Homo sapiens: one gene and its partner. The protein of the gene in region 1 interacts with the protein of each later gene in a pairwise test. Each region holds a gene or a part of one and is shown on either strand. Other genes may lie near its edges.

The links. The genes of interacting proteins can lie anywhere in the genome.
Region 2: the proteins of SCN3A (region 1) and LRP2 interact in a two-hybrid assay, tested with the Homo sapiens proteins (one study listed by BioGRID).

The regions. Positions count from the first base shown.
Region 1 is NC_000002.12:165,092,551-165,096,050, reverse strand, and holds part of SCN3A (sodium channel protein type 3 subunit alpha), read left to right. Parts: intron 1-402; coding exon 403-540; intron 541-1,572; coding exon 1,573-1,677; intron 1,678-3,500. UniProt on the Homo sapiens protein: Pore-forming subunit of Nav1.3, a voltage-gated sodium (Nav) channel that directly mediates the depolarizing phase of action potentials in excitable membranes.
Region 2 is NC_000002.12:169,132,035-169,135,534, reverse strand, and holds part of LRP2 (low-density lipoprotein receptor-related protein 2 precursor), read left to right. Parts: intron 1-2,853; coding exon 2,854-2,961; intron 2,962-3,500. UniProt on the Homo sapiens protein: Multiligand endocytic receptor. Acts together with CUBN to mediate endocytosis of high-density lipoproteins. Mediates receptor-mediated uptake of polybasic drugs such as aprotinin, aminoglycosides and polymyxin B.

The sequences.
Region 1 (3,500 bases):
CAGAATATATCTGTGCTGAATTTTCCTCTTAGAAGTTGATGTTCTGCTCTTAAAGCCGTATTTCCAAAATTCAGCATTTCCAAAACCAAACAGAAAATACTGCAAAAAATTATGACTAATAATAGGCTCAAAATGTTTTCCCTGCTTATATCACCGTATTTATGTTAAAGAATATGTTAAATGTAAGGCACAATGGGAAAAGAGAATCAAGAACAATCATAAAACTTGCAAACCTTCATTTTACTAGATCATACTAGTTTTAAAAAATTGTTTTTGTAGAACAATATCTCAGGGTAAGGCAAAAGTAGCACTGTATTAAGTAACAGCACTCAATAAATTACTGATTTAGTGTAAGTATTTATAGTATTTTTCATATTATTTAATATTTTCAATATCATTTAGGTTAAACTTCAGCCTGTATATGAAGAAAATCTGTACATGTATTTATACTTTGTCATCTTTATCATCTTTGGGTCATTCTTCACTCTGAATCTATTCATTGGTGTCATCATAGATAACTTCAACCAGCAGAAAAAGAAGATAAGTATTCTTTAGCTTTTACCTTTCTTCATTCTGGGGTTCTGTCTGTTAATACAGCCAAATAACCAGAATACCTGTGGTCATGACAGACTTAAATCATGTTTATATTATTTTCAGTTGCCCATGTGGTTATTTAAGCTGCAGGGATTCCAGCCTCTAGTCAGTGGCTCCTCTCAAAGTTTATCTATTGGATAGCTTTCTGACCCAAAAATGTGTCCACTCCTTCGGACCCATCCAACGGGTCTCCAGTGCTTTAGCTTGGCTTACAGAGCCTTTCAGGAATTACCTCCACCCAGTTTTCCATCTTCATTTTTTCCTACACTTCACTCTATACATGTGTATTTCCCTACTACATAGTCACCACCCATACATCTATATGAGCTTTCTGCCCTTTTCTGAACAAGCATTCTCTTGTACCTCCATGGCTTTTTGTGATTTTTTTTTATCCTGGAATGTTCCTAGAAAACCCATAATCATCTTTTAAGGCCTAGCTTAAGGGTAAGCTATGTAACAGCTTGTCTCTGAGTCTCTGAATTCATTGTTGCCTCTGCAGTACATTTAATTTTTTTGTCATATCAACATACACTGTCCACCTACGTTTTCAGTTTCCTGCTCCATTTAGAAGCAGAATACTGTATCTTATATATTTATGTAATTCTGACACCCAGCACATTGTCTAGCACACAGAAAGTGTTAAAAACTGTTGAATGAAGAAGTAAAATTATCGGCAGTGAAATGGACTAAGAAAATGTTTTCTGTTTTGCAAAAATATATTTGAGACCCTTGTGCCTACTTTTAAACATAGTATAATCAAATTAGGATCCTGTAGCGATCAGAGTTTTATGTACGTAAGGATTTTGCATAATATTAAGATATTCAGAATTTCACATAAATGGGAAAAGCAGGATAAATGTATATGTAGGAGGATAATATCCACTTAAAAATTAGAAAAGATTAAAGGAAAGACAAATATTTTTTGTGAAAGTACTATTGGAACACAGAATTGTAACCAGTTTTATACTATGTCTTTACTTTGGAGGTCAAGACATCTTTATGACAGAGGAACAGAAAAAATATTACAATGCAATGAAGAAACTTGGATCCAAGAAACCTCAGAAACCCATACCTCGCCCAGCAGTAAGAATTACTTGTCTCCTTTAATGTTCCAAAGCCATGCGTCCATATGGTCAAATTGAGCAATGCTCTGGAGCAGAACATATTAGGTGATATCACCAATATTGAGCCCTAATTATAAAGTTCATATTTTGCATCATAATTCACAACTTCTGCACTCATTAGGAGTTACCACATTCCAAAAAAAGGAGGTAATGTTCTTTATAATTTGTGAGTTGAAAACTTCTAGCTCAGGGTTCCTAATAAATACTTCCAAAGCAAGGTTCACTTTCCTGCTACCAACAGCACACCTGGTTCCTCCTCCTCTAGCCTTCCCATCCCACTCTCCAAGGCCTCCCTCTATACTCTCTGCTCCCTCCATTCTTAAGACTAGAAAATATTCCAAACCTGTTTAGAAAGGGAAAAGGTGTCATCAAAATTGTTTGTTTCACCAAATACACCAAAACAGAATAAGGCATATTCAGAATGCATACTCTGTAGAGCCTCATGATGATGGAATGATGTAATAATGACAGATTATGTTCACAGAGCTGGACTCTAACTCAGCTATTTTCTGAGATTGGTAAGGAGTAAGGAAACTGAGGCCCAAAGAACATACGAATCATGCCCCAAGTCACAAATCTTGTAATTGCCAGAACTGGGACTTGACAAGGCCCCATAAATTCTCTAAGTGACTTGACTTTACCATATTTATAAGAGTAGTTGGAGCTGGAATGTGAGGGAGCAGGGTAAGAGGGGAAAGGATTGAACTGACTTTACTAGAGTTCTTTAAAAATTAAAACATGGTCACTTCATGACCTTTGATTTTTGGTAAGCCATGAAGTTTTAAGTTTTTACTCTAAATGATTAATAATATATTTCTTTAATAAAACTGTATTTACTAGCCATATTAATATAAGAATCTTTGAAAGCATGTTGTTCCTGAGATGATTGTTAATAAGACAAAGAAAAAAAGTGTTTAAAGTCATGCATTTTTGTTAAAGCACAGGGCATAGGTAAAGAAGGACAGATGGAAAGAAATACAGATAAATTAACAAGCCCATACATAGATTCACAGAGCTAGAGAGGTAGAATTCAATAGAAATATGACTGATGTATTTCAGGGGAGGGAAATAAGGTATAAACCAAAATTTCTAAAATATTGATAAATGAATTGGTGTATTCTCTATCTAAATATCTGTTGATATTAACCTGCTTTGTAAATCTTTGTTATTAGTAGTCACTATTTTTTATAAAAATTATCATACTTATTCAAATCAAGCAAAGACTACATATATTATCAGCCAATTGTCACAAATTTATGTGTTTGTTTTTGTTTTGTTTTTTAAGAGACAGGGTCTCACTCTGTCTCTCAGGCTGGAGTACAGTGGCAAGACCATAGCTCACTGCAAGTTCAAACACCTGGGGTCAAGTGATTCACCTCAGCCTCCCTCGTAGCTGGGACTGCAAGCCTGTGCCACCATACCAGGCTAATTTTTTTTTAATAGAAATGAGGTCTCACTATGTTGCCCAGGCTGGTCTGGAACTCTTGGCCTCAAGAGAGCCTCCAGTCTCAGCCTCCTAAAGTGCTGGAATTACAGGCATGAGTTGCCACGCCCAGCCTTAATTTATGTCTCATCCAGCTTTGTCTTTCCATAGGACCTATATAAACCAAATATGCTTTGTTTAGCTATATAAATTTTTTTTCCATTTTTTTTAACATGAAGAGAAAAAAAGCACACAAAATTGTTTGGGGTAATATGAGGAGGGTGCACATCCATCCCGTATGTGGAAGGGCTTTATCTACAATTTTACTGCATTATTCTTTATGAAATATATATAGTAAC
Region 2 (3,500 bases), 4.0 Mb from region 1:
CTGAGAAACTGCTTGGGTGACTTGACAAGTAAAGGCCGGTCCACTGTCGGACTGTATAGAGGTGGGAAGGCCAAACCGAGGAATTATGTCTGACAGAAGGGAAGAAATGACCGCAGTGGACTTCTCAGACCCTGTGGGAAAGGCCTCTTCCTATCCTGTGAAAGTGTCTACCCAGACCAAGAGGTATTTTAGTTTCCTGACTTGGGGCATGTGAGTAAAGTCAATTTGCCAGTCCTGGGCGGGGGAAAAACCCCGAGCTTGAGGTGTAGGGAAGGGAGGGGGCCTGAGAAATTCCTGAGGAGTAGTAGAATAGCAGATGGAACACTGAGAAGTGATTTCCTTGAGGATAGATTTCCACAATGGAAAGGAAATGAGAGGTTCTAAGAGACTGGCTAGTGGCTTGTAACCTACATGGAAGAGGTTATGAAATGATGACAGAATAGAATGGGCCTGTGAGGCTGGAAGGAGATATTTTCCTTGGTCTAAGAACCATTTGCCTTGTGTGGGAAGAGATTGATAGGTGGAAGTTTCAGCGGGGGACTAGGTGGGAGTGACTAATGTGAAGGAGAAAAACTGACTGTGAGGGACAGAAGTTGGAACGCTAGCTGCTTTTTTAGCTAATTTATCAGCATAAGCATTGTCCTGAGCGATGGGATCTGATGCCTTTTTGATGGCCCTTGCAGTGAATGACTCCAGCTTCCTCTGGAAGTAAAGCGGCTTTGAGAAGCGTTTTTATTAAAGACGCATTAATGATAGAGGACCCTTGTGTAGTGAGGAAACCTCTTGCATGGTGGTGCAGGATATGGAAGGCATATATAGAGTCAGTATAAATACTGACATGTAGTCCCTTTGCAAGAGTGAGGGTTTGACTTAAGGCAATGAGTTCGGCTTGCTGAGAGGTAGTGGAGCGGGGCAGAGCGGTAGCCTCAATGATAGATGTGGAAGATACTATAGCATAGCCTGCCTTTGCTGGTGAGTGGCGATTAGGCCTGGTGGAACTGCTATCAGTAAACCAAGTGTGTTCAGGGTGAGGAACAGGAAAAAAGGAAATATGGGGAAATGGGGTGAATGTCAGGTGGATCAGAGAGATACAGTCATGGGGGTCAGGTGTGGTATCCGTAGTAATGTGGGAGGCTGGATTGAAGTCTGGGCCAGAAACAATGGTAATTGTGGGAGACTCAACAAAGAGTGAGTACAGCTGAAGGAGCTGGGGAACAGACAGTATATGCGTCAGGTGGGAGAAAGAAAATAGATTTTGGAAGTTATGAGAACTGTAGAGAGTGAGTTGAGCATAGTTTGTGATTTTTAGGGCCTCTAAAAGTATTAAAGCAGTGGCAGCCGCTGCACGCAGACATGAGGGCTAGGCTAAAACAGTAAGGTCAAGTTGTTTGGACAGAAAGGCTACAGGGCACGGTCCCGGCTCTTGTGTAAGAATTCTGACTGCACTAACCATGCCTAGGAAGGAAAGGAGTTGTTGTTTTGTAGAAGGGATTGAGGTTTGGGAGATTAGTCAGACTTGATCAGCAGGGAGAGCATGTGTGTTTTTATGAGAATTATGCCGAAATAGGTAACAGATGAGGATGAAATTTGGGCTTGACTGAAGTAATGGGGGCTGTCTGTGAAGCTTTGCAGCAGTACAGCCCAGGTAATTTGCTGAGCCTGATGGGTGTCAGGTTCAGTCTAAGTGAAAGTGAAGAGAGGCTGGGATGACGGGTGCAAAGGAATAGTAAAGAAAGCATGTTTGAGATTCAGTCCGTCATCTTTAAGAAGAGCTGGGAGATGAAATAGGAATATAGGTGAAGGGAATAACTTTACATAAGGTCTGCATCAATAGCCCCAGCGCCACTTTTACTGCTTGTCAACTGCGAACATGTATCTCCTTTGTCACAACAACTATGGCCTTAGTGACAATGAATAACTGTCATTGTTAACACCTAATGCTCCTTTTGAACTCGAGATATGGCACATTTTAATACAGAAACTAGAAATGTTTATTTTACAAATATTTTGTGATTTTAAGATCGGAAATGTTTAAATCTTGAAAGCATTTTCCCTGATCCTCTGATAAACAGATATGAAAACTTTAATCACATGATAAAAGAGATACGACATTTCATTTGACATCTTCACTTAAAATAAAATGAGGCCATGTATACAAATGCATATCCAAGTTTCAGAATAAACAAGTAATGAATGTGAAAATATAGGAAAAGGAGTGAATTGTCTACCTTGTAGTTTATTATGCATTCATGGTAATTTGGTCTTAAAAGGGAACCTTGGAATTGTATGAATGTTATAGAAAAATGCGTAGAAGATTATTAATTCTATCATTCTCATCTTTTCAAAAATTCAACCTCTTTTTAGTAGTACTATGAAATCTTAATTTCCGAAGATAGGATTTATTAATATTCAAAGAAATTATTAAGATCCAAAGATAGGATTCTCAGTTCATCAGTGAGGTTGGGGAATTATTCTTGCTGTTCTTCTAGGATTTGGCTTCCAGTATATAACTAGAGTATGATTATCCAAAAATTTGGTCAACAGTGGGAGTAAGAAGGTATAGAGAATACAGTAGAAATTGCTAGTAATAAGTGAGAGTGTGACCAGTGAGGGATGTATTTGCCTCCCAGGATTAAGGTATGAGGTGACTTAGTGGTTGCTGCTCTTGATTTTGGGGCGGTGGGAGTGATGTTTAGTCCTGGCCTACTGGGTCATGCAATAAAAATGGTGCCTGATGATGTCTGTGGGAGAACAAGATGGCAAAAAGAGCCAGAGTTGGTACAAACTTTACAGCAAATTTATTTACTACTAAATTCTTTCAAAATTGGGTAAAGGCCTTTAACATGTCCACAGGTGACTGTATCTGAAAATGTGGATAATAAGAATTATGGAAGTCCCATAAACCCTTCTGAGATAGTTCCAGAGACAAACCCAACTTCACCAGCTGCTGATGGAACTCAGGTAACAGTTGCCGACTCCTGAAATAATGTGGGATTTGGAAAAACTTTGGGATGACTGGGTTTTTATTAACCTTAAGCAAACAAGGGAGATTCTGGAAGGCTCAAAGATCTCAAGATGTGTTGACAGTTAATAAATATAATTTTTTAAAAAGTCATAGATTGAAAAACTTTCCACCAAATAAAGCTACATTCTAACATCGAGTTGGGAATAATGTTCCTTGTAACATAGGAGGACATGTCACAAAGAAGAACAAATAGACTTCTGGATCCAGTATCTTCAGACCAGAGACATTTAAGTTGAGAAATTGACTCAGTATGAATAAAGATTTCACGGTGTCAAAGATACAGATGAAAGATCCGTCTGTGTGTGCCGTGATTTCTCTACAGCATGCATCTTTATTCTTTCAAGCTGTTCTTCGCTCTCCTGCTATTACAGATCTTTACCACTAGATGGCACTAATTTTTCCATTCATCATCCATCTATTCATTATTGGCCAACCAATCATCTAACTAACGTTATTCCCCTCGATGTGTCAGGGA